7 linked regions of the Homo sapiens genome follow. The protein of the gene in region 1 purifies or fractionates together with the protein of each later gene. This does not show direct contact. Each region holds a gene or a part of one and is shown in the gene's direction. Other genes may lie near its edges. The genes, in order: NTSR1, LMBRD2, MCUR1, QNG1, TMEM161B, ALG8 and ELOVL2.

Evidence for each region.
Region 2: the proteins of NTSR1 (region 1) and LMBRD2 purify together in Homo sapiens (affinity purification with mass spectrometry; one large-scale study listed by BioGRID and IntAct). This does not show direct contact.
Region 3: the proteins of NTSR1 (region 1) and MCUR1 purify together in Homo sapiens (affinity purification with mass spectrometry; one large-scale study listed by BioGRID and IntAct). This does not show direct contact.
Region 4: the proteins of NTSR1 (region 1) and QNG1 purify together in Homo sapiens (affinity purification with mass spectrometry; one large-scale study listed by BioGRID and IntAct). This does not show direct contact.
Region 5: the proteins of NTSR1 (region 1) and TMEM161B purify together in Homo sapiens (affinity purification with mass spectrometry; one large-scale study listed by BioGRID and IntAct). This does not show direct contact.
Region 6: the proteins of NTSR1 (region 1) and ALG8 purify together in Homo sapiens (affinity purification with mass spectrometry; one large-scale study listed by BioGRID and IntAct). This does not show direct contact.
Region 7: the proteins of NTSR1 (region 1) and ELOVL2 purify together in Homo sapiens (affinity purification with mass spectrometry; one large-scale study listed by BioGRID and IntAct). This does not show direct contact.

Annotation. Positions count from the first base shown.
Region 1 is NC_000020.11:62,707,397-62,711,635, forward strand, and holds the start of NTSR1 (neurotensin receptor type 1), read left to right. Parts: upstream 1-1,439; 5' UTR 1,440-1,811; coding exon 1,812-2,525; intron 2,526-4,239. UniProt on the Homo sapiens protein: G-protein coupled receptor for the tridecapeptide neurotensin (NTS). Signaling is effected via G proteins that activate a phosphatidylinositol-calcium second messenger system.
Region 2 is NC_000005.10:36,117,388-36,120,887, reverse strand, and holds part of LMBRD2 (G-protein coupled receptor-associated protein LMBRD2), read left to right. Parts: intron 1-2,971; coding exon 2,972-3,153; intron 3,154-3,500. UniProt on the Homo sapiens protein: Recruited to ligand-activated beta-2 adrenergic receptor/ADRB2, it negatively regulates the adrenergic receptor signaling pathway. May also regulate other G-protein coupled receptors including type-1 angiotensin II receptor/AGTR1.
Region 3 is NC_000006.12:13,790,558-13,794,057, reverse strand, and holds part of MCUR1 (mitochondrial calcium uniporter regulator 1), read left to right. Parts: intron 1-19; exon of another isoform or gene 20-110; coding exon 111-164; intron 165-2,065; coding exon 2,066-2,180; intron 2,181-3,193; coding exon 3,194-3,249; 3' UTR 3,250-3,500. UniProt on the Homo sapiens protein: Key regulator of mitochondrial calcium uniporter (MCU) required for calcium entry into mitochondrion. Plays a direct role in uniporter-mediated calcium uptake via a direct interaction with MCU.
Region 4 is NC_000009.12:83,950,243-83,953,742, reverse strand, and holds part of QNG1 (queuosine 5'-phosphate N-glycosylase/hydrolase), read left to right. Parts: exon of another isoform or gene 1-91; intron 92-3,500.
Region 5 is NC_000005.10:88,206,346-88,209,845, reverse strand, and holds part of TMEM161B (transmembrane protein 161B), read left to right. Parts: intron 1-2,665; coding exon 2,666-2,817; intron 2,818-3,346; coding exon 3,347-3,407; intron 3,408-3,500. UniProt on the Homo sapiens protein: Essential for maintaining normal cardiac rhythm in the developing heart and for neonatal survival.
Region 6 is NC_000011.10:78,136,827-78,140,870, reverse strand, and holds the start of ALG8 (dolichyl pyrophosphate Glc1Man9GlcNAc2 alpha-1,3-glucosyltransferase), read left to right. Parts: upstream 1-1,244; 5' UTR 1,245-1,282; coding exon 1,283-1,377; exon of another isoform or gene 1,378-2,093; coding exon of another isoform or gene 2,094-2,161; intron 2,162-4,044.
Region 7 is NC_000006.12:10,985,306-10,988,805, reverse strand, and holds part of ELOVL2 (very long chain fatty acid elongase 2), read left to right. Parts: intron 1-3,500.

The DNA of each region.
Region 1 (4,239 bases):
ACCCCCGCCCCAGCCTGCCCAGGTTTCCTGCTCCCAGCACAGCAGGTGCAGCCAGCCATGTGCACAAAGGCCAGGCTGGTTCCCTGGGCTGCACTCGAGCAGCTCCTCCCAGCCCTGCACACATGGGGCAGCAGCTCTACCCAACCTCTCCCAGGGGTTCTGGGGAGGAGGGAGCAGGGGAGGGGGCGGGGAGGGCCCAGAGAAGGGACAGTAGTGCCCTGGGGGCCCCTGGGCAACCCAGACATGGAGGGGGGGGCAAGCTTGTGCCTGGCCACCTATGCCAGTGCCACCAGGTGCTGGGGGGGACACGGAAAGGACAGGAATCTTGCCCTCACCTGGCTCCCGAGCCAGGGGCCGGGGCACCCTGTGAGGACACTCAGAGGGAGGGAGTGTGCAAAGCCTGCAGGGCCTGGGAGGATGCGTGCTGGGGCTGCCTCTCCCAAATCCTGCTGGGGCGCAGGCTCTCAGGGTGGCTTCTGATGACAAATCCAGGCAGTAATAAGGGGCCCAGGGCATCACATCCCATAGCGTCATGAGACCAGCCCAGGGTGCCAGATGCAGGGCCCTGAGTGGGGAGGGTGCTGCTCTGGGCACCTGCTTTCTGCCCTCCCTCATTCACCCCTCCCCAGACTTTGATGAAACCATCTGTGGCTCCCGGCCTCTGCAGGACCCAGCCCCTCAGCTCCTCAGCCCCTGCAGGTGTCCCTCGGTACTGCCTCACGCCATCCTGCCCCAGGTGATAACTATGCCCTGAGCCCCCACCATTTCCACTGGGCACATCCCAGAAATACGCATTCACAGACCAGGCACGCCCATGACTGCGGCCAGATTTTAAAAGGAATCACCAGAAATGTAATCTCCAGTGGTCCTAGAGCCCCCTGGGCACCCAGCTTCTGGCACCCTGTGGACACCCAGGAGTGGGGGTCGGCCCAACCAGCTGCGCAGCCGCCCAGCCCTGCCAGCGGGGAGCTTCCTCCCTCCCTGCCCTCCGGATACACCCTCACCCCAACTGAGCGAGCCCAGGGTTGGGGGAGGTGCATAGTTCCCTTCCTAGCCGGTGCGAGAAATTGCGGAGAACAGGGAAGAGGGTGGCAGGAAGGGTCTGGTGCACGATACCCGCCGCGCCCGCTCGGAATCCTGGTTCCCTGGAGCGCTCACCCCAGCCCGCCCTGCCCCGGGGAGCGCGAGGGGGCGACCCGCCAGGCTGCACCCGGGCGGGGCGGGGATGGCGGCGGGGGCTGCCTCCCTCCTCCGCCGCCACCCCCCACTGCTGGGCGCGCCGCGCGGCCGCCGGCTCCGTGGAGACGCGCAGAGCCGGGAGGGCGCGGGCGCGGCGGGAGGTGTGCGGGGCTGGGGTGCGCGGAGAGCGCGAGGGAGGAGATTCTGAGCGAGGGAGGGGAGCGCGCCCGGGCAGCAGTGCGTGCGCTCCTCCCGGCGCCACAAGCTCGCCCCGCGCAGCCCGAGCCGGGCTGGGCGCTGTCCTCGGGGGCCTGGGGAACCGCGCGGTTTGGAGATCGGAGGCACCTGGAACCCGTGGCAAGCGCCGAGCCGGGAGACAGCCCGAGGAACCACGGGTTCTGGAGCTAGGAGCCGGAAGCTGGGAGTCCGGAGGAGAGCGGAGCCCGGAGCCCGGAGCCCGGGGCGGCGCGTCTGGGTCTGGCGCTTCCCGACTGGACGGCGCGCCCGCTGGTCTTCGCCACGCGCCCTCCCCTGGGCTCCCGTTCATCGGTCCCCGCCTGAGACGCGCCCACTCCTGCCCGGACTTCCAGCCCCGGAGGCGCCGGACAGAGCCGCGGACTCCAGCGCCCACCATGCGCCTCAACAGCTCCGCGCCGGGAACCCCGGGCACGCCGGCCGCCGACCCCTTCCAGCGGGCGCAGGCCGGACTGGAGGAGGCGCTGCTGGCCCCGGGCTTCGGCAACGCTTCGGGCAACGCGTCGGAGCGCGTCCTGGCGGCACCCAGCAGCGAGCTGGACGTGAACACCGACATCTACTCCAAGGTGCTGGTGACCGCCGTGTACCTGGCGCTCTTCGTGGTGGGCACGGTGGGCAACACGGTGACGGCGTTCACGCTGGCGCGGAAGAAGTCGCTGCAGAGCCTGCAGAGCACGGTGCATTACCACCTGGGCAGCCTGGCGCTGTCCGACCTGCTCACCCTGCTGCTGGCCATGCCCGTGGAGCTGTACAACTTCATCTGGGTGCACCACCCCTGGGCCTTCGGCGACGCCGGCTGCCGCGGCTACTACTTCCTGCGCGACGCCTGCACCTACGCCACGGCCCTCAACGTGGCCAGCCTGAGTGTGGAGCGCTACCTGGCCATCTGCCACCCCTTCAAGGCCAAGACCCTCATGTCCCGAAGCCGCACCAAGAAGTTCATCAGCGCCATCTGGCTCGCCTCGGCCCTGCTGGCGGTGCCTATGCTGTTCACCATGGGCGAGCAGAACCGCAGCGCCGACGGCCAGCACGCCGGCGGCCTGGTGTGCACCCCCACCATCCACACTGCCACCGTCAAGGTCGTCATACAGGTGAGCCTCAGTAACCAGCCCCGGGGCTCCCCTCTCCTTCACCCCAAAAGCAGTGCCAGTGGTGTGCCTTCTGGGTAGGGAGTGGGAGAGATGTCACAGAGACAGTCTACTCCTGCGAGGCTGGGAAGGCGGTTGGGGCAGCTTGGGGGCAGCTCCAGAGTTGCCAGGCTCAGCCCCTATCTTCTTCCCTCCTGTTGAGGGGATGGAGCCCCTGCCTGTGACCTCTCTGGTGTTGGTGGCTGGGCCTCGGACATCTCTGAATTCCTTAAGCCTAATGGAAACATGTGCGCTGGCACCTGCGTCTCCAAAGGAAGAGTAACACTTTCATCAGCTTCTCAAAAGACTGTGCCACCAACAGGTGATGTTCCTTCCTCTGCAGAGAAGCCCCCAGACTGGCTCTGCCGGTGCCTCCCAGCTGCCTGCCCTGACCCAAACTTGGGAGTCAGAACAGAACCTGATGCCGTGTTGGGCCAGTTCCTAGTTTAGCCTCAGCTTTCCCATCTGTGTGATGGGGTAGTGATAGCATTGACCTCAGAAGGTAGAGCATTGGAGAGAGGACGCGTGGGAAGTGTTTGCATGGCCCCTGACACATAGAAGGGCTCACAGGCACTATTATTGCGGGATGGTGGGGACGATGTTTCTGCGGGGAAGGTTGTGAGGATCTGCGTGTGGCGGCGGTGTTGTGGTGAGGTGTGTAAAACTGGAGCCGAGTGACTAAGGGCCCTCCAAGGGTCTGAGCAAAGCGCCGTGGGAATGCGGGTGGGAAGCCCCCTTGGGAATCAGTTTGGCTGAGGTTCGTGGCACGGGGGGTTCCAGTGCTGGAGGGGAGGGCTGATCAAACCAAAGCCCCGAGCAGGAGGCTGGTGTCCAGGGAGGAAGTCAGGGCCGGTCGGGAACTTTGAAAGGCATCTTGGAAATGAGCAGCCTTAGAAGTGTGGGGTTTCCTCCATTTCTGGTGGGCTAAGGAAGCCAGAGGGTGAAGGATCCGGGCAGAGTCGCCTACCTCTGCCCAGCTAGAGGGGCCAGGGTGGCTGGCTGTCCCCCCAACTCCCCACACACCAGCATCGCCAGCCTCCCAGCTAAGCTTCTGTAGTTGCCTGGGCACCCCGCGTATGCCAGTATGCCCGGTGGGGGTGAGGGCAGCAGTGCCGGGCAGGGGGTCACCTGTCTGTCACTCCCTGGGCCCTAACTGACCCTCCACTGGCCACCACCCAGGTGGGCTGGGGGGTGGAGGAGGGTAGAACTGAGCTCCCAGTCTCCCTGGCTGCACATAGAACTGGTGGCTACAGGTGTCCCATCTCGGGGAGGCCCCTCCCACAGACACTGGTGGCAGGCAGTGAGTCAGGGCTGCTTTGCTTCTGCGGCGAGAGTCCCTCCCCTCACCAGAGGCAGAAGTAGGCACGGCCTGTGGGGTAAACACAGTGAGAAATGACCTCTCCCTCCCTTTGAGGCTTTATCTGCTCTCCCCAAGCTCCTGTCTTTGATTGGCATTGGCCAGGGGGAACCTCTCCCCAGTCCGCGTGGAGGGGCCCCAGGGGCGACAGCCACTCAGTCCTTCAGAAGGTGGGCAGTGGAGGGGTCAGCGCTGTCACTGCCCACCCAGGAGATGCCCCCACTCAGACCCCGGATCCCCCCACTCAGACCCCCGATCCCCCCGCTCAGATCCCCGATCCCCCCGCTCAGAACCCCGATCCCCCTGCTCCCCTGGCAAAAG
Region 2 (3,500 bases), on another chromosome or scaffold:
GGGCCAGTGAGATAGGAAAATTAGGACAATGAAGTGTTTTGAGGAAAAGAGTATATAAAGTACCTTTTCAAATGTTGCACATAGATTAAGGATCATATATATTAAGACCTGACCATTGGATTTTAGAGAAGTGAGGGGAGAGGATAAAAAAGTCTGACTGTAATTTAAAAGAAATAAGAAGAGGAGCAATTGGAGACAGACTAGAAAACTCTAAAAATGTTTTCCTTATAAAAGGGAACAGAGAAAAGGGGTAGTAGCTGAAAGAGGATTGGGGGCATAGTCAAGAGAAATTATCACATGTAATTAGTAAATGATATAATAGAATTTGAGGCCAGGCGCGGTGGCTCACACCTGTAATCCCAGCACTTTGGGAGGCCGAGGCGGGCAGATCACAAGGTCAAGAGATTGAGACCATCCTGGCCAACATGGTGAAACCCCGTCTCTACTAAAAATACAAAAATTAGCTGGGCGTGGTGGTGCGTGCCTGTAGTCCCAGCTACTCGGGAGGCTGAGGCAGGAGAATCACTTGAACAGGAGGCGGAGGTTGCAGTGAGCCGAGATTGTGCCACTGCACTCCAGCCTACCTGTAGTCCCAGCTACTCGGGAGGCTGAGGCAGGAGAATCACTTGAACCCAGGAGGTGGAGGTTGCAGTGAGCCGAGATTGCGCCACTGCACTCCAGCCTACCTGTAGTCCCAGCTACTTGGGAGACTGAGGCAGGAGAATCGCTTGAACCCGGGAGGCAGAGGTTGCAGTGAGCCAAGATTGCACCACTACACTCCAGCCTGGGGACAGAATGAGACTCCGTCAAAAAAAAAAAAGAAATAAAGAGAGAGAGAGATGAAAGAAAAGAAAGACAAAAAGAAAGAAAGAGAGAAAGAAAGAAAGAGAAAGAAAAGAAAAAATTCATAGAATTTGATAAGACAATAGAGAATTTCTAAGACAATGTTCATGACTAGTAGAGATGAGATGGTGGGAAATAGTGAACAATGAAGAGAATGGTGGAGGTAAGGCACAGATGTAACTAGCTGAGAAGGTGTAGTGTTAGAAACTTGGGAAAATTCTCTGATCGCTTCTGTTTTCTCAATGAAATGTGGAGAGTAAGTATAGGAGAGGAGATTTTAGAGATTTGAGGAGGGAAGAGAAGGTGCAAAATAGTTGCCTAGGAGAGTGGCATGGGAGAAGATTGGGGAATTATAGTAGGCTAGTGAGGCAGTACTGAGGACCCACTTGAAGCTAGTGATTAAGAATTTAAAGTGAGGCCAGTCAACAAGGTGGGGTGTCTTTCTCCTGCAATGTGCAGCTGTGTGGATGCAGGCTGAGAGTAGCCAGCGAGTTGGATTTAAACAGGTGTGATTTAGCTTAGCAGGTACAGTGGAGCAAAATGGGGCAAAGTAAGTGGGATACTGTCCTCAAAGACTGGAATCTGAGCTGCATGAGGAAGGAAGGGTATCAAAGTGTTAAATAACGGTAAAATGTGATAGAATAAATTGATTTTTCATCCAGGTATGGTCAGTTAGTGGAGTTGAAATACTGTACTAGATGAAGGTATTGTTTGAAGACAAGGATGCTGGAATGTGATTATATGGAAGGGCTGGAGATATTGATAATAAAAGGTTTAGGCATCACTATAGCAACAAGTAATTGAGGTAGGGTGGAGGGAAAGTTCATTAGAGGAGAGGAGGTCAAAGAAATGAGAGATAAGGGTATTGAAAGGGGAATCATTTATGTGGATATTGAAATCACTAGGAATTATGAGAGGAAAGTTGTAAAGAATTACAGTGAACCAGAAGCTAACTATTCAGTAAATGAACTAAAAATATAGCTTTTTAATTTATTGAGCTTTCTTTTTTAAATTTTTATTTATACCTAAATTCAGACTTAAAACCAAAATAGTGCTGGGAGTGGTGCCTCACACCTGTAACCCCAACACTTTGTGAGGCCGAGGTGGGTGGATCATGGGGTCAGGAGATTGAGACCATCCTGGCTAACACGGTGAAACCCTGTCTCTACTAAAAATACAAAAAATTAGCTGGGCATGGTGGCACGTGTCTAATAAAAATACAGAAAATTAGATGGGAGTGGTGGCACACGCCTGTAATTCCAGTTACTTGGGAGGCTGAGGCAGGAGAATCACTTAAACCCCGGAGGCAGAGGTTGCAGTGAGCCGAGATCATGCCACTGCACTCCAGCCTGGGCGACAGAGCGAGACTCCATCTCAAAAAAAAAAAAACAAAAAACCAAAACAGTACAAAATATTCCCATATACCCTTCAACCAGGCTCTCCAATGTTAATATTTTGCCATATTGATTTGCTTTTTCTGTATGTATTTTTTTATTACTATTTTAGAGTTGTATCCAGACATGATGCCTCCTTGTTCCTAAATGTTTCCGTGTATATTTTCTAAAAATAAAGATATTTTCTTACATAGCCAAATACAGCCATCAAAATAAAAAAATTAATATTTATACTCTACCATTATTTACAGACCTTATTCAGATTTTGCTATAATTATCCCAATAATATTTTTTGTAAAAAATCCCAGATCATGCATCGCATTCAGTTGTTGTGTCTCCTTAGTTTCCTCTAATCTGACACAGTTTCTCAGTCTTTGTGTTTTATGATATATCAGAAATGTTTTGGGGAGTATAGGCCAGTTTTTTGTTGAATGTCCCTGAATTTGACTTTGATGTTTCTTTAAAATTAGACGCAAGTTCTGCATTTTTCACAGGACTACCACAGCAGCAATGTCACATTCCTATCAGTACATCATAGCAGGAGGCACATGATGTCAGTTTGTCCCATCATGGGTGTCATTTGGTTAGGTTCGTATCTGCCTGGATTCTCCACTGTAAAATTGCTGTTTTTCTCTTTGTAATTAAGTATCTTATTAGGAGCTATTTTGAAACAATGTAAATATCCCATTACTCTTTTGTAGTTTTCCTAATCATTTTTTTCTTTTGTCTTCTAGAATGGTACTGGGAATGTCTTTTGCGACCATGGTTTTACAAGATACTTGCTGTGGTTCTGTCCATCTTCTCTGTGATTGTTGTGTGGTCAGAGTGCACATTCTTTAGCACTACTCCTGTCTTATCCCTCTTTGCGGTCTTCATACAGCTGGCAGAAAAAACATATAATTATATTTATATCGAGGTCAGTTTATTTTATGTCTGTCATAAATAGATGTCACTTCATAGTATAATCCTTAACTATTTTCTCCATGTATTTCTTCTAGTAAAAATGAAAGCAGTGAGGTTTTCTGCAGTGTTGTTATTCAAACTTCCAGAAATGTGCTTCATTATTTTACCCACACTATAGAAATTAATAACTGTATTTGAGGAGAGATGAAAAGTTGCAAGATAGTGCAGAAATCTGAGATTTTTTTTTTCTTTCTGTTTTTTTTGGAGGCAGAATCTTGCTCTGTCACCCAGGCTGGAGTGTGGTGGCATGAACATGGCTCACTGCAGCCTCAACTTCCCGGGCTCAAGAAATCCTCTCAC
Region 3 (3,500 bases), on another chromosome or scaffold:
CTGGTGTTACGTATTCTAGGAGGTACTGAGACCAGAATATTTAAGGCACCAGAGAAGGAGAAGAGAGAGGAGTAGATCAGAATCTGACCCATGTTACGTGTTTATTTCAGTATTCATTGAACGAAAAGAAGCTGCTGGAATTGAGAACAGAAATAGTGGCATTGGTAAGAAACAAGACTGTGATTTTTCTTTGTCTTTGTACTCATCTTTGCTTCGTTCCATGCATGGTTGTTTGTAATGATAATAGGAAGTTACATGCAGGTTTACTGTCATGGGAATTTTTTACATTGTGCTAAAATACACACAACATAAAAATTAGGATCTTAACCATTTTTTAAGTGTACAGTTCAGTACATTTAAAGTACATTCACATTTTGGGGCAACCATCGCCACTGGCTATCACAGAACTCTTTATTTTGCAAAATTGAAACTCTGCACCCTTTATACATTCCCTTTTCCAGCCTCTGGTGACCTCCATTCTACTGTCTATGGATTTGACTATTCTACATACCTCATATAAATAGAATCATAGCATTTGTCTTTTTGTGGCTGGCTTATTTCACTTAACACAGTGTCCTGAAGGTTCATCCATGTTGTTGAAATGACAGGACTTTCTTCCTTTTTAAGGCTGATTAGTATTCCATTATATGTATATGCCACATTTTCTTTATTCGTCTGTCAAGGGCACTTGTGTTGCTTCCACCCGTTGGCCTTTGTGAATAGTGCTGCTGTGGGCATGGGTGCACAGATGTCTGTTGGGATCCCTGCTTTCAGTTCTTTTGGGTATATATGCAGAAGTGGAGTGTCACAGGATTTTTTGCACTTCACAAAGTGTTTGGTTATCGTAATGGAAGATAGTTATCCTATGAAAGATTTAAACTTTCTTAATGAAAGTTTCCTTTTCTTCTTTCTTTTTTTTTTTTTTTTTTTTTGAGGTGGGGTCTCGCTCTGTCACCCAGGCTGGAGTGCAGTGGCTCAATCTCAGCTCACTGCACCCTCCTTCACCTCAGCCTGTAGAGTAGCTGGGACCACAGGCTCACACCACCATGCCCTACTTGAGAGTTTGTTTTTCTTAACGGAAGTTTTATTAAGAAAGTTTAAATCTCAGTAATTGAAGAATAGTGAGGAATGGAGAAGTCTTATTCTATTTTTAATTTATAGCATACATTTCTCCTTTTCCATACTGTATGGAACCTGGGACCTCTGAAACCCCCAAGAGGCTTTCATGAGAGAATTCCAGAATCCTGGGATATTTCTCTGGAATACTTTTTTACGCATCCAGGCATTTATTTCTTTTTTTCTCTGCCTGAATTGGTAGCCATAGGGAAAGATTTAGTTGCTGTAGGAGTTTTAGTGAAGGATTCCCATGGTTTTTATGCTTTAATGCAGTTCTACAACCCCCTATAGCGTCGGCCAAACCCACTGCCTTTTTGAGGGTTGATTATGTGTCCAGTTTAACTGTATTGTATTTGGGGAAGGACACAAATTGGCCGTGGGTAGCCAAGCCTCATAGTAATGAAACACTTGATATTTGAACATGAAAGAAGAAAGTTTTTTAAAAATATGACTAGAAATAGCTCAAGACAAGCACTGCCGCTTTCACATTATCTAAGACTCCATTTCTTGAAAACATTTTTGAGTTTACTGTCTATCTTTGACTAAGGAGGATTTAGAAGGATGAGACGTAGCCGTTGCCTTTGAGAACAGACTGGCCTCATAATACCACATCATTTGTATAGCAACCTAGAGCTTACAAATGCTTTTTCACATAGATTATCGCATTTGATTCTCTAAACAGTCCAGGTAAAGGCAGGGCCACTGGCTTGGTTGTTTCGTTTTGTTCTGTTTTCATTTTTTCAAATAGAAGAAAACTAAGGCCTAGAGAGGTTAAGGGTCCTGACCAATGCAGCGTAGAATTAGGGTTTTAGAACTGAGACTAAAGCCCAGGCCTCCATAGTCTTACCCAGGTTTCCCTGTGACTGCACCCCGTTGGGAAGGAGCTATAGGATGGTGAGCAGAGGGGACGTGCTGTGGTCTAACGCTGTGACTCTCTTCATTTTAAAAGCATGCCCAGCAAGATCGGGCCCTTACCCAGACAGACAGGAAGATCGAAACTGAGGTTGCTGGCCTCAAAACCATGCTTGAGTCACACAAGCTTGATAATATTAAATATTTAGCAGGTAAGCTATTTTGTATCTATTTAAATCAACCTGAAAAGAAAATAAATTTATAAAATAAGTCGTTGACAGATACTGCATTTCATTGATTCCAACACTTTCTGAAATATTTTAACATCTCTGAAATTGGAAAGCATCTTACAATTTCCAGTAGATGAAGTATCATAGTTTAATTGGCACTTTTTCTTTCTTAGTAGTAAATAAAGTAATTGTGTACGTTATAATTGATAGAATTGGAAATTTGATAAGATACTATAATTGAACTATAGTTATTAGGGATTTTAATGAGATTCAAGACAGGAAATATTTTATGGATAAAATGGAAGGTGTTTCAGTTGTAATCTTTCTGCTTCAATTGCTTAAACTCCTTTTAAGGAGTTATTTTACTTTCGCGATTTTTGATCCAAAAGAGAGAATGAACATTCATGTACCACCCCCCACCCAAATTAACCATTATTTCAAGTCAGATTTAACGTCTTGGATTAATTAAATATTTTAAGGTTACAGCATTATTTAACAGTGAAATGTTGTTCTTTATATTAAATTGTGTCTTCCTGTCTCTATAGTGCATATACATAGACCTTGTGACCACAGAATTTTTGCTATTCGAAACTTTTATTGAAAAGTTTTCTTAGCCTAGGCAACACAGCGAGACCTAGTCTCTACAAAAAGATTTAGCCGGGCATGGTGTCATCTGCCTGTAGCTTCAGCTTCTTGGGAGGCTGAGGCAGGAGGGTCACTTGAGCCCGGGAGTTTGAGGCACAGTGAGCTGTAATCATACCATTGCATGGTGCACTCCTCCTGGGTACCAGATGAGACCATGTCTCTAAAATAAGAAAATAAAATAAAGGGTGTGGGATTTGTTTTTTCAGTAGGCAGGCGTTTCACGGAATATGGGACATCAGTGAGCAATCTAAGTTTCTAGGTTTTCTTTTTTAGGTTTTCTTAAAAAAAGATGTTCCCTCAAGTAACTCTTAATAGAACTAATAGTACTCTCAATTGTTTTTTTCTTACAGGGTCTATATTTACGTGCCTAACAGTAGCTCTGGGATTTTATCGCCTGTGGATCTAATAAAGTGTCTATTTAAAGTGATTTCTACTGTTTTGCCTTAAGAATACCAGATTGTTGGCTGGGTGCGGTGGCTCACACCTGTAATTCCAGCACTTTGGGAGGCTGAGGCAGGTGGATTACCTGAGGTCAGGAGTTCGAGACCAGCCTGGCCAACACGGTGAAACCCCGTCTCTACTAAAAAATTAAAACATTAGGCGGGCGTGGTGGCGGGCGCCTGTAGTCCCAGCTACTCGGGAGGCTAAGGTGTGAAC
Region 4 (3,500 bases), on another chromosome or scaffold:
GAGGTTGCAGTGAGCCGAGATTACGCCACCGCACTCCAGCCTGGGTGACAGAGCTGGACTCCATCTCAAAAAAATAAAAGAAAAAATAAAAGAAATTGGCTTGGCGTGGTGGCTCACACCTGTAATCCCAGCACTTTGGGGGGCCAAGGCGGGTAGATCACAAGGTCAGGAGTTCAAGACCAGCCTGGCCAACGTGGTGAAACCCCGTCTCTACTAAAAATATAAAAATTAGCCGGGTGTGGTGGTGGGTGCCTGTAATCCCAGCTACTCAGGAGGCTGAGGCAGGAGAACCACTTGAACCCAGGAGCTGAAGGTTGCAGTGAGCTGAGATCATGCCACTGCACTCCAGCCTGGACGACAAGAGCAAGACTCTATCTCAAGAAAAAAAAAAAAAAAGAATTCAATTGTATTAGTGTGTTCTCACACTGCTATAAAGAACTGCATTTCATTTATAGCACAGTGCTTTGGTTTTGCTTTGCTGAAAAGTTCAATTTTTAAAAAATGTACCAGAAAGTGGCAGTATCTTGGCTCACTACAACCTCCACCTCCTGGGTTCAAATGATTCTCCTGCCTCAGTCTCCCAAGTAGCTGGGATTACAGGCATCCGCCACCATGCCCAGCTAATTTTGTATTTTTAGTAGAAACAGGGTTTCACCATGTTGGCCAGGCTGGTCTTGAACTCCTGACCTCAAGTGATCTGCCTACCTCAGCTTCCCAAAGTGCTGGGATTACAGGCTTGAGCCACCATGCCCAGCCAATCTGATACTTTTTTTTTTTTTTTTTGAGACAGAGTCTCACTCTGTCACCCAGGCTGTAGTGCGGTGACACCATCTCTGCTCACTGCAACCTCCGCCTCCCAGGTTCAAGCGGTTCTCTGCCTCCGAGTAGCTGGGATTCCAGGCACCCACTACCACGCACAGCTAATTTTTGTTTTTTTTTTTTTTTTTTCAGACGGAGTCTTGCTCTGTCACCCAGGCTGGAGTGCAGTGGCGCGATCTCAGCTCACTGCAAGCTCCGCCTCCTGGGTTGACGCCATTCTCCTGCCTCAGCCTCCCTCGTAGCTGGGACTACAGGTGCCCGCCACCACGCGCGGCTAATTTTTTTGTATTTTTAGTAGAGACAGGGTTTCACCGTGTTAGCCAGGATGGTCTTGATCTCCTGACCTGGTGATCCGCCCGCCTCAGCCTCAAAAGTGCTGGGATTACAGGCGTGAGCCACCGCACCTGGCCTAATTTTTGTATTTTTAGTAGAGACAGGGTTTCACCATATTGGCCAGGCTGATCTTGAACTCCTGACCCTGTGATCCACCCACCTTGGCCTCCCAAAGTTCTGGGATTACAGGCGTGAGCCACAGCGCCTGACCTAATCTGATACATTTTTAAATGAAAATTGGTACAGAAACCATTTCTCATGAGTACTTGTTTCTAACATACAGTTTTACAGAAAAATCCCCAAAATGGGCCAGGCATGGTGGCTCAAGCCCATAATCCCAACACATTGGGTGGCTGAGGTAAGAGGATTGCTTGAGCCCAGGAGGTCGAGACCAGCCTGGACAACACGTGAGACTCCATTTCTACAAAAAATTTAAAAACTAGCCAGGCGTGGTGGCATGCCTGTGGTTCTAGCTACTCAGGAGGCTGAGGCAGGAGGATCGCTTGAGCCCAGGAGGTGGAGGCTGCAGTGAGCTCTGATAGTTCCACTTTACTCCAGCCTGGAAGAGCAAGACCTTGTCCCCAAAAAAATAAATAAATAAAAATAAACAATTTGCACAAACTAGTCATGTGTTTTTAACGTATACCTATTTACTGAGATTATCATTCATTTTTAGACATGAACAGATTAATAAAGTTAACAATTTTTAATTTAGATAGATTTAGATCAGTGATTTCCCAACCTGGCTGTGCCCCAGAATCACTTAGGAGGCTTAATTCAGATATATTTCCAAAACACCACCCTCAAAGAGCCTGATGAATAGGTGAAAGAAGAGCTATTTTTTAAGCTCTTCAAGTTACTCTGATTTAGAGTAATGCAGTAACTTTGTAAAAGTTCTAATTAGCAAATTGGCTTTCTTATGACTATTACTGTTACTGTGACATACTGATAAATATAAAAAACATAAGCTTTTTGATATTTCAATAGATAACATTTTATTTTTTATTTTTAGTTTTTTTGTTGTTGTTTTTTGAGACAGAGTCTCGCTGTCACCCAGGCTGCAGTGCAATGGCGCAATCTCGGCTCACTGCAACCTCTGCCTCCCGGGTTCTAGTGATTCTCCTGCCTCAGCCTCCTGAGTTAGCTGGGATTAGAGGTGCGCACCACCACGCCAGGCTAATTTTTGTATATTAGTAGAGATGGGGTTTTACCATGTTGGCCAGGCTGGTCTCGAACTCCTGACCTCAGGTGATCCACCCGCCTTGGCCTCCCAAAGTGTTGGGATTACAGGCGTGAGCCACCATGCCAGCCTTTGTTTTTTGTTTTTTGTTTTTTGAGATGGAGTCTTGCTGGCGTGCAATGGCACAATCTCAGTTCACTGCAACCTCCGCCTCCCAAGTTGAAGCGATTCTCCCACCTCAGCTCCCGAGTAGCTGGGATTACAGGCACCCGCCATCATGCCTGGTCAATTTTTATATTTTTGTAGAGGCAGGGTTTCACCATGTTGACCAGGCTGGTCTTGAACTCCTGACTTCGGGTGATCTGCCCACCTCGGCCTCCCTCCCAAAGTGCTGGGATTACAGGCATGAGCTACCGCACTTGGCCTATGTTGTTCTTAACTTTTGTAATCCTTGAACTTTCTATTTATTCATGATAAAATTATGGAATAATTTTTTCAAAAAACTTAACTGTCCAGGTGCGATGGCTCTTTCCTGTAATCCTAGAACCTTGGGAGGCCAAGGTGGGTGGATCACTTGAGCCCAGGAGTTCAAGACCAGCCTAGGCAACATGGGGAAACCTCATCTCTGCAAAATAACAAGAAAATTAACTGGCCTTGGTGGTGAACACCTATAGTCCCAGCTATTCAGGAGGCTGAGGTGGGAGGATTGCTTGAGCCCAAGGAGGTCAAGGCAGCAGTGAGCCGTGATTGAGCCACTGAATTGAGCTACAGCCTAGGCAGCAGTGAGGCCCTGTCTCAAAAAAAAAAAAAAAAAGAAAAGAAAAGAAAAAAATTAACTCATGGTCATAGAGCTTTTTATTGACAATTATTTTATAAAGGTACGATTTAGAAAATATTTAAATCACAAAACAATATCATGAAACATGTAAGCAATTGTTATTTGGAGATTTACTAGTAGTTTTAGTGATACCAGTTAATATTTTAGAGATCCAGAATTTGATTACAAAAATCATTTGATTTCTAAAACCATAATGAGCTTACCAAGAAAATGTTTTATAGAGATGGCCAGGCGTGGTGGCTCATACCTGTAATCCTTGCACTTTGGGAGGCCGAGGCAGGTGGATCACAAGGTCAGGAGTTCAAGACCAGCCTGGCACACGTGGTGAAA
Region 5 (3,500 bases), on another chromosome or scaffold:
GATCCAAGACAGTGTAGTGATGACACTCAGGAGATGGCAAGTACACTATTCTGATTGAGGTGGAGATTTGGGGACTATTGAATGAAAGCTTGAACATGTGAGTGTGGCCAGATCATAGTATTACATACGGGTTATTGGGAGATGGTGTTCTAATGTGGAACTCAATAAATAATTAGGTTTTTAAGATTTATCCAGTATGCAATATGAAGTGAGGATGCAGTGATTATACCATTTTAGGCATTTGTGGTGTGGGACTGTAAAGTATTAGTGATAAGTGCAAGATCATGCTTCATGTCTGGATCAGATTGCATGTAATTTTGTTTTCCTTTAGTGTTGACATATTTTGTAATTTCATTATTCTAGGATAACAAAGTGTGGTGGTAGGTGTAATTTTTGGGAAATTTTATTCTGATGATTTGGTACCACTTTTGGCCAAAGATACTATTTTGTTTTTCAGTGTAAGAAAAGAAGTTGGAAATTGTCTCCTTATAGATTCTAGTAAACATTTTCAGTAAAAATAAAGCAGTGTTTTTCAAACCTGAGTTTAAGGCATTTAGGCTATGAGAGATCATAGCTGTATCTTAAAAGCAGTTCAGTTGTAGTTTTGCAGTTTGACTATATTCATCTTTCTTTGTCCTCTTCTAATATGTAAGCTCTTCCTTATAATGCCAAGAAAGAGATGGATGGACCTGTATTGTTTGATACAGGTTGAGCATTACAATCCAAAATCCGAAATGCTCCAAAATCCAAAACTTTTCCAGTACTGACATAACACCAGAAGTAGAAGACTTTACACTGGGCCTCATGTGAGAGATTGCAGTTAAAATGCAGTCAAAATTTTTTTCATGCACAAAATTATTAAATATGTTGTATAAAATTACCTTCAGACTATGTGTGTGAGATATATATGAAAGGATTCTTCTGATTATGAGAATGTTTTAATTCTTTACTTCTGTCAGGGCAGTTCTGTTTTGAAAAGATTTTATGTGTTACTGCTAAAAGTACCACATTGACTTAGGTGCTATGTACAGTGTTTTAGAGGCAATGTAATCAATAGTTACGTGCACAGATTCTAGATCCAGACTGTCTAGTTTTAAATCTCAACTTTCTCTAATCTAGCTGTGATTTTGATATTTTTACTTTTACCTCTCTGCCACAGTTGTTGTTTTTTTGTTGCTGCTGTTGTTTGTTTTTTGTTTTCCTGAGACGGAGTTTCACTCTTGTTGCCCAGACTGGAGTGCAGTGGTGCTATCTCGGCTCACTGCAACCTCCGCCTCCCAGGTTCAAGCGATTCTCCTGCCTCAGCCTCCCGAGTACCTGGGATTGCAGGCGTGTGCCACCATGCCCGGCTAATTTTTTTTTTGGAGACGGAGTCTCACTGTGTCACCCAGGCTGGAGTGCAGTGGCGCGATCTCAGCTCACTGCAAGCTCCGCCTCCCGGGTTCACGCCATTCTGCTGCCACAGCCTCCCTAGTAGCTATGACTACAGGCGCCCGCCCCCATGCCCAGCTAGTTTTTGTATTTTTAGTAGAGACGGGGTTTCATCATGTTAGCCAGCATGGTCTCGATCTCCTGACCTCGTGATCCAGCCGCCTCGGCCTCCCAAGGTGCTGGGATCACAGGCGTGAGCCACCACGCCCGGCAATTTTTGTATTTTAAGTAGAGACGGGGTTTCGCCGTGTTGGCCAGGCTGGTCTCATACTCCTGACTTCAGGTGATCCGCCGGCTTAGACCTCCCAAAGTGCTGGGATTACAGACGTGAGCCACTGCGCCCGGCCCACAGTTGTTTTTTGTTTGTTTGTTTGTTTGTTTAAGTTTTTTAAAATGTCTGTAAAGTAGCAATAATAATGTGGTTAGTGTGAGAATTAAAAGTTAATTGGTAATGCCCGGCATATGGCAAGTACTAAGTGATAGCTGTTAATTTTCCATGCTTGACATAAACTTTACGTAAAGGTTACTTTTCTAGGTTTGTTTGCCAAGCACCTTAGTTTGTTTTGCGATTTCAAGGAGAACAATTTGGTGTATAATGGAAATCTGAGTTCTATCTTTGGGCCATGCACTGATTTAACCTTGATTAAATCAATTTGTGTGTGTTGGGGTGGTTCAGATAAGATAATCTCTTCAGCCTATTTTAATAGGTGAACATGTTGAAACTTTTGCTGTTTTTGAATACTCAGTTGGAACTTGTTTTCTCTAAAGATTTTTTCTTATTACTAATGTGAAGTGGTGACCCCAGACACTTAGTTTTCATACCACAGATCAACAATAGCTACTAGTAAAATTCTCAAATTTTAACTTGTTGAATTATTACGGAGGATTCCTGTGTTATGTGTTTAATTATAAATGTAAACTGGTTTAACAGACATGCCTAATAAAGACAGTTCTCTAGAATAACCTCTACCCTGGCTTTTCATGTCACTGAGAACATACTGCATAAAAATCTTGAAATAACCTTCTAGTAAAATTTGAGTGAGATAAACTAGAAATACATTCCCTAGCTACAACTTAGTATATGGGTGCTCTTTTCCTTAATTTAAAAGTGTTTTAAACTCCACTTGGAAATAAATGTTGTAGTCAAATTTTATTGCAATCAAGTCCTATAAAGATCATTGTGTATAGCTCCTATAAATTTATTGTGGTTTTTCCTGAACTTTTCCTTCTGCAGCAAAGTTCTATTTTCATTAACTACACACTATTTTAAAGTAGAAGATGGTGGTGAAAGATCTGTTTGTGTCACCTTTGGATTTTTTTTCTTTGTCAAAGCAATGGCAGTGTTGATTGTAACAGAAAATTATCTGGAATTTGGACTTGAAACAGGTAATAGTTTCATACAACTTTAAAAATCAATTTTGCTTTATCTAGTGTTAATATTTTTGACTTCAGTATTTAAGTTTTATGTCTGATAAATATCTAAAATTAAATTTAAAGTGTATACTCTGTAATGTTCAAAATAATTAACCTTTATTATTAAGATCTTCATTTTTTGCTTTTGTTTTAGCTAAGTTTTTAATTAATGTTTTTTTCCAAAAATACTGTCTCGTTTTTTTCCTTACAGTTAAATAAGTTTCTGTAATGCTAAAGTTTACTCTTATAGTTGAAGAATTAATGCAAATTTTATGCACACTCATGGAATGTACAAATATCAAAGGGACGTTTTCAAAGACTGTTCCTGCTAATAACCAAATTTTATTGCATTATGGCATACTAATTAACACATGAAAGAGCTAAGCTAGTCACTTCAAAATTTAAGATGCTCTGTTTTCTAACATTTTATTTCCATGGAAAGATTCTGTATTTCACATTTGTGATAAGAGTAATCTGTTGTTTTTTTTTTTTTCCCCCACAGGGTTTACAAATTTTTCAGACAGTGCGATGCAGTTTCTTGAAAAGCAAGGTTTAGAATCTCAGTAAGTTTTTGAAAAATTAAGCATTATTTAAATTTAACCTTTTCTATTTTTAATAAAGCAGTATTTACTATAAATAGCTGTTTTAAATTAGTA
Region 6 (4,044 bases), on another chromosome or scaffold:
AGGGAGGTGACACTGTCACCTACTTGCTGTGCATCTTTCAGCAAGATAATTAACTGATCTGACACATTATTGAGCATTTATTCTGTCCTGGAATCATATCAAGCAATTTACATGCATTCTCATTTAATCCTCACAACCAGTTTATGAGGCTGAAACTTTTTTTTTTTTAGACCAAAAGCATCTTGGATAAACAGGCCTGAGGCTTGCCCAGGCTGAAGTGCAATGGCGCGATCTCAGCTCACTGCAACCTCCGCCTCCCACGTTCACGCGATTCTCTAGCTTCAGCCTCCCGAGTAGGTGGAATTACAAGCGCCCGCCACCATGCACGGCTAATTTTTTTTTAATTTTTAGTAGAGACAGGGTTTCACCATATTGGCCAGGCTGATCTCAAACTCCTGAACTCAGGTGATTCGCCCACCTCGGCCTCCCAGTGTTGGGATTACAGGCGTGAGCCACCGCGTCCGGCCAGAAACCATTTTTATCTCCTATTTTCAAAAATAAATAAATAAATAAAAATTTTAAAAAAAGAAACTGAGGTTTAGAGTTTAGTTTGTCCAAGATCATACAGTAAAATAATGAGACAAGCCTAATTAAATTGCATGTGCCTCAGTCATTACGCAATCTGCGAGTTTGTTGGGCCTACTGAATCAGAATCCGAATTATTTTAACATGAACCGTAGGCTATTTGTACACTAAGCGTTAGGACTAGCCTCTACCCTGCTTCCAGAATGGGTTCCGCTCAAGCAGGAGGTGAGCCAAGAGCCTCGCTCAGAGTTCTAAAAACACAATGTTTCTCACCTCTGTATCTTTGCACATGCCATTCTCTAGCTGGATTTAATACTCCGGTGCAAGCGTCCAGGTTGGGAGCCCCCGCAGTTCTCTGAGGTACTTTTATCTACTGTAACTCTAGGGCAACAATCCTGGCTTCTCCACTAGTGCGTGAACGTCTCTAGCGTTAAGTTTTTTTCTCACCTAAGTATCCCCAATACTACACAGTGATGACCCAGCGCAAACGACCACTCTTTCAACGCAAGCATGAACTAGCTGATAAAACTTAAAAGTGGCTACAAACGCCTGCGCAGGAGCCCTTCCGGCCCGGGGTGAGACGCGGGTCTAAAGAAAAGGTGGGCGGGAGGTTTAAATAGCTGACTGCAGTCCCCGGACTGGCTGCGCCGCTCGCCGCATGCGCGCAGCTAGCGGGCACGGCTTCAGAGGGCTTTCTCCGCATGCGCGGGATCCCGGATGTGGATCAAGTTGGTGGGAAGCGTGCGGTGCCGCAGCAATGGCGGCGCTCACAATTGCCACGGGTACTGGCAATTGGTTTTCGGCTTTGGCGCTCGGGGTGACTCTTCTCAAATGCCTTCTCATCCCCACATAGTAAGGGACTCGCACGGCCAGGGGCTGGGCGGGGAGGCCCCGCGGTCGGTCAGGGCGGGAGAGAAAGGTGTGGATATCCCTGGGTATGAAGAGAAAACTTTAGGTCGTGTTTGTCGCTATCCTGCCTTTGCTAAGCTTTCTGTTTCGCCAGTTGTTACTTGACTTAGCCCCAGCTGGCTAGGTTCAGACCTGGCGCTGTCTGATTTGGAACAAATCACTTTAACGTTTCTGAACCTCAGGGTCCTCATCCTTAATAGGCAGTTAAGAACCTCTGCCTCCAACAGCCATTCAGCCAGTATTATCAGATGCCTGAGGTGCCAGGTACCGTTCTAACTCCCGGGAGATGCGGTGGTGAGCAAGACATTGCTGGTCCTTGCCCTCGAAGTTGGTGGGTGGAGCTAGACAAACAGGAACTTTTCAGATTGTGATAAAGGAAATAGAGGGTTACTAAGTGGCTGTGCGCTATTCCTTTAGAAGGTGATGTTTGAGTTGAAATTCAAAAAATGAAAAAGAATAAGTGATGTGGAAAGCAGTTCAGGCATAGGAAAGAGTAAGTTCAAAGGCCCTGTGGCAGGAAAGAAGTCAGAGCATTCTAGGAACAGAAAGTGCCCCTTGTGGCTGCAGAGCATTGAGGGAGAGGAGTGGCACAGCATGGGGTGCACTGGGGACAGATAACACAGGGTTTCGAAGACCACAGTTAGACTGCTGTGTAAAAAATGGATGTAGGGCCAAGACTGAAAGCGTGGAAACCAAGAAGCAACCATGAAATGGTGGTGTGTATACAGTAGGTACTCAGTATTTATTAATATTGGCTTCCGCCTTCCCTTCATCCTTCCTCTTTTTTCTTTTTCTCCCTCATCCCTTTTCTCCTTTCCCTCCCACTTCCTAGTTTAGGGTTTGTTTTATTGGTATCCTTTGATTCAGGCTCTTGGTGATCTCTTGTTGAATATGGGAGAGTCATATGTATAGAATGTAAGTCCATACTGATGCGTATATGTAATCATGTAAGTGGAATGTATATGTAGATTCAGTAAAATGATTAACTGTAGGTCTGTGCATAAGATTATTTCTTGCTTTAGTTGCCTCAGGCTAGAAATGTATCCTCAGAGTTGTTTTTTTTGTTTGTTATTTTTTTTTTTTTTGAGACAGTCTCGTCCCACTCTGTCACCCAGGCTGGAGTACAGTGGCACGATCTCAGCTTACTGCAACCTCTGCCTCCCGGGTTCAAACGATTCTCCTGCCTCAGCCTCCGGAGTAGCTGGGATTACAGGCTTGCACCACCGCGCCAGGCTAATTTTTGTATTTTTAGTAGAGATGGGGTTTCACCATGATGGCGGAGGGCTGATCTCAAATCTCCTGACCTCAAGTGATCCACCTGCCTCGGCCTCCCATAATGTTGGGATTACAGGCATGAGCCACCGTGCCTGGCCAGAGTTGTTATTTTGAATACTGCTCTTGGTCCAGGTTAAGAATGTATATAGCGCTCACTTTGGCAGCACATGTACAGGAATACCTCATTTTTTGTACTTTGCTTTATTGCACTTCACAGATACTGCATTTTCATTTTTTTTACAAATTGAAGGCTGCGGTAACTCTCCATTGAGCAACTCTATCAATGCCATTTTTCTAACATCATGTGCTCATTTTGTGTCTGTGTTACATTTTGGTAAATCTTGAAATATTTCACACTTTTTCATTGCTATTATATTTGTTATGATCTGTAATCAGTGATCTTTGATACTACTATTCTGATTGCTTTGGGGCAACACTATGGTGAACTTAATAAATGCTGTGTGTTCTGACTGCTCTATCAACCAGCTGTTCCATCATCTCTCTCCCTCTCCTCAGGCCTTGCTGTTGACTGAGATACAATAATAAAGTTAGGCCAATTAATAGCCCTACAGTGGCATCTAAGTGTTCAAGTGAGAGGAAGAGTCACATATCTCTGACTTTAAATCAAAAGCTAGAAATGATTGAGCTTGATGAGGAAGGCATCCTGAAAGCCAAGACGGGCTGAAAGCTAGGCCCATTGTGCCAAACAGCCAAGTTGTGAGTGCAGAGGAAAAGTTCTTGAAGGAAACTAAAAGTGCTACTCCAGTGAATACACAAGTGATAAGAAAGTGAAACAACCTTGATGATATGGAGAATGTTTTAGTGGTCTGGATAGATCAAACCAGCCATAACATTCCCTTAAGCCAAAACCTTATCCAGAGCAAGGCCCTAAGTCTTCAATTCTTTGAAGCCTAAGAGAGGTGAGGAAGTTGCAGAAGAAAATTTGGAAGCTAGCAGAGGTTCTTTTAAGAAAAGAAGCCATCGGCCGGACGCGGTGGCTCATGCCTGTGATCCCAGCACTTCGGTAGGCCAAGACGGGCGGATCACCTGAGGACCAACATGGAGAAATCTCGTCTCTACTAAAAATACAAAATTAGCTGGGCGTGGTGGAGCATGCCTGTGATCCCAGGTACTTGGGAGGCTGAGGCAGGAGAATCACTTGAACCCGGGAGGTGGAGGTTGCAGTGAGCTGAGATCGCGCTATTGCACTCCAGCCTGGGCAACAAGAGTGAAACTCTGTCTCAAAAAAAAAAAAAGGAAGAAAAGAAGCCATCTCCATAATAAAGTACAAGGTGAAGCAGCAAGTGCTGATGTAGAAGCTGCAGTAAGTTTTCT
Region 7 (3,500 bases), on another chromosome or scaffold:
ACGGATGAAAGCTATAACAGAGAAGAGGCCTCAGGTGGATGTAGATTTTAAATTGCTCTCTTTTGTAGGCTGGGGAAATGGAAAGCTTAGTTTAAAAAACAAAGTACATTTATATTCAAAACTATACTTTTGAAATTGTATTCAACTGTATTTTTTTCAGACTAATAAGAAGTGCTTTACTTTTTAGTTTGCACTTGCTGAAAGTTAACCCATAGTGGTTTTTATTTTTATTTATTTTTTTGAAACAGAGTTTTGCTCTTATTGCCCAGGCTGGAGTGCAATGGCGCAGTCTCGGCTCAACACAACCTCTGCTTCCTGGGTTCAAGTGATTCTCCTGCCTCAGCCTCCCAAGTAGCTGGGATTACAGGCGTGTGCCACCACGCCTGGCTAATCTTGTATTTTTAGTAGAGATGGGGTTTCTCCATGTTGTTCAGGCTGGTCTTGAACTCCTGACCTCAGGTGATCCGCCCACCTTGGCCTCCCAGAGTGCTGGGATTACAGGTGTGAACCACCACACACATCCCCATAGTGGTTTTATACAGTGTGGAACAGTGGAAACTGAATTTTGACAGCTTTTCAGGTCTTGTATTTCTGAAATTGGACTAGGCTGTTTTAAGAGATAAAGGTTTCCTTTGAAGATTTCCAAAGAAATAATCAATGATGAGACCAAACAAAGCTATGTGTGGGTGTGCAAACCCCTGCCCCCAACTTCCCAATAAACGCTAAGTGTTAAAGGGAAGCTAAGGGAGTGATTTTGGTACCTCGTGTTGAAGAGAAGCGTATAGCCCAGCAAGAGTAGGTAATGGCATTCAAAGCCTTAGCCCTACATGCTGGTTCAAACTGCATCTTAGTTCTGAAGTCAAGCATATAATTTAAGTTTGGATCCTTGTTAATACTATTGCTTTAAAAAAAAAAAAAGTGAAAATGAGATGCGAGATCAGGTATTTTGTCAGAATAGGAAGGATATGCCAAAAACTAGATCAAGCCAGAATCCCAGGTATTGGTATTTTAAAATAACAGCACTTTTTCCACTTGAATTATTTTTAAAAGTTTTATCTTTCCAAGTGAGCAACTAATGCAGAATACTTTGCCAGCCCCACAATATACAAATCGTGACCTCTAATAGTCATTGAAATACATGCATTTGTTTTGGTCTTTATTTTTAATCTTTAACCAGAAGTTTAAAAATGATACTATAAACATGAAATCTAGGCAGAAATAAAGAAAGATGTTCTTTGAAACCAATAAGAACAAAGATACAACATACCAGAATCTTTGGGACACATTCAAAGCAGTGTGTAGAGGGAAATTTATAGTACTAAATGCCCACAAGAGAAAGCAGGAAAGATCCAAAATTGACACCCTAACATCACAATGAAAAGAACTAGAAGAGCAAGAGCAAACACATTCAAAAGCTAGCAGAAGGCAAGAAATAACTAAAATCAGAGCAGAACTGAAGGAAATAGAGACACAAAAAACCCTTCAAAAAATCAATGAATCCAGGAGCTGGTTTTTTGAAAGGATCAACAAAATTGATAGACTGCTAGCAAGACTAATAAAGAAGAAAAGAGAGAAGAATCAAATAGATGCAATAAAAAATGATAAAGGGATATCACCACCGATCCCACAGAAATACAAACTACCATCAGAGAATACTACAAACACCTCTATGCAAATAAACTGGAAAATCTAGAAGAAATGGATGAATTCCTCGACACATACACCCTCCCAAGACTAAACCAGGAAGAAGCTGAATCTCTGAATAGACCAGTAACAGGCTCTGAAATTGTGGAAATAATCAATAGCTTACCAACCAAAAAGAGTCCAGGACCAGATGGATTCACAGCCGAATTCTACCAGAGGTACAAGGAGGAACTGGTACCATTCCTTCTGAAACCATTCCAATCAACAGAAAAAGAGGGAATCCTCCCTAACTCATTTTATGAGGCCAGCATCATCATGATACCAAAGCCAGGCAGAGACACAACCAAAAAAGAGAATTTTAGACCAATATCCTTGATGAACATTGATGCAAAAATCCTCAATAAAATACTGGCAAACCGAATCCAGCAGCACATCAAAAAGCTTATCCACCATGACCAAGTGGGCTTCATCCCTGGGATGCAAGGCTGGTTCAATATATGCAAATCAATAAATGTAATCCAGCATATAAACAGAACCAAAGACAAAAACCACATGATTATCTCAATAGATGCAGAAAAGGCCTTTGACAAAATTCAACAACCCTTCATGCTAAAAACTCTCAGTAAATTAGGTATTGATGGGACGTATCTCAAAATAATAAGAGCTGTCTATGACAAACCCACAGCCAATATCATACTGAATGGGCAAAAACTGGAAGCATTCCCTTTGAAAACTGGCACAAGACAGGGATGCCCTCTCTCACCACTCTTATTCAACACAGTGTTGGAAGTTCTGGCCAGGGCAATTAGGCAGGAGAAGGAAATAAAGGGTATTCAATTAGGAAAAGAGGAAGTCAAACTGTCCCTGTTTGCAGGTGACATGATTGTATATCTAGAAAACCCCATGTCTCAGCCCAAAATCTCCTTAAGCTGATAAGCAACTTCAGCAAAGTCTCAGGATACAAAATCAATGTACAAAAAATCACAAGCATTCTTATACACCAATAACAGACAAACAGAGAGCCAAATCATGAGTGAACTCCCATTCACAATTGCTTCAAAGAGAATAAGATACCTAGGAATCCAACTTACAAGGGATGTGAAGGACCTCTTCAAGGAGAACTACAAAACACTGCTCAATGAAATAAAAAAGGATACAAACAAATGGAAGAACATTCCATGCTCATGGGTAGGAAGAATCAATATCGTGAAAATGGCCATACTGCCCAAGGTAATTTATAGATTCAATGCCATCCCCATCAAGCTACCAATGACTTTCTTCACAGAATTGGAAAAAACTACTTTAAAGTTCATATGGCACCAAAAAAGAGCCTGCATCGCCAAGTCAATCCTAAGCCAAAAGAACAAAGTTGGAGGCATCACGCTACCTGACTTCAAACTATACTACAAGGCTACAGTAACCAAAACAGCATGGTACTGTTACCAAAACAGAGATATAGATCAATGGAACAGAACAGAGCCCTCAGAAATAATGCTGCGTATCTACAACTATCTGATCTTTGACAAACCTGAGAAAAACAAGCAATGGGGAAAGGATTCCCTATTTAATAAATGGTGCTGGGAAAACTGGCTAGCCATATGTAGAAAGCTGAAACTGGATCCTTCCTTACACCTTATACAAAAATTACTTCAAGATGGATTAAAGACTTAAACGTTAGACCTAAAACCATAAAAACCTAGGCATTACCATTCAGGACATAGGCATGGGCAAGGACTTCATGTCCAAAACACCAAAAGCAATGGCAACAAAAGCCAAAATTGACAAATGGGATCTAATTAAACTAAAGAACTTCTGCACAGCAAAAGAAACGACCATCAGAGTGAACAGGCAACCTA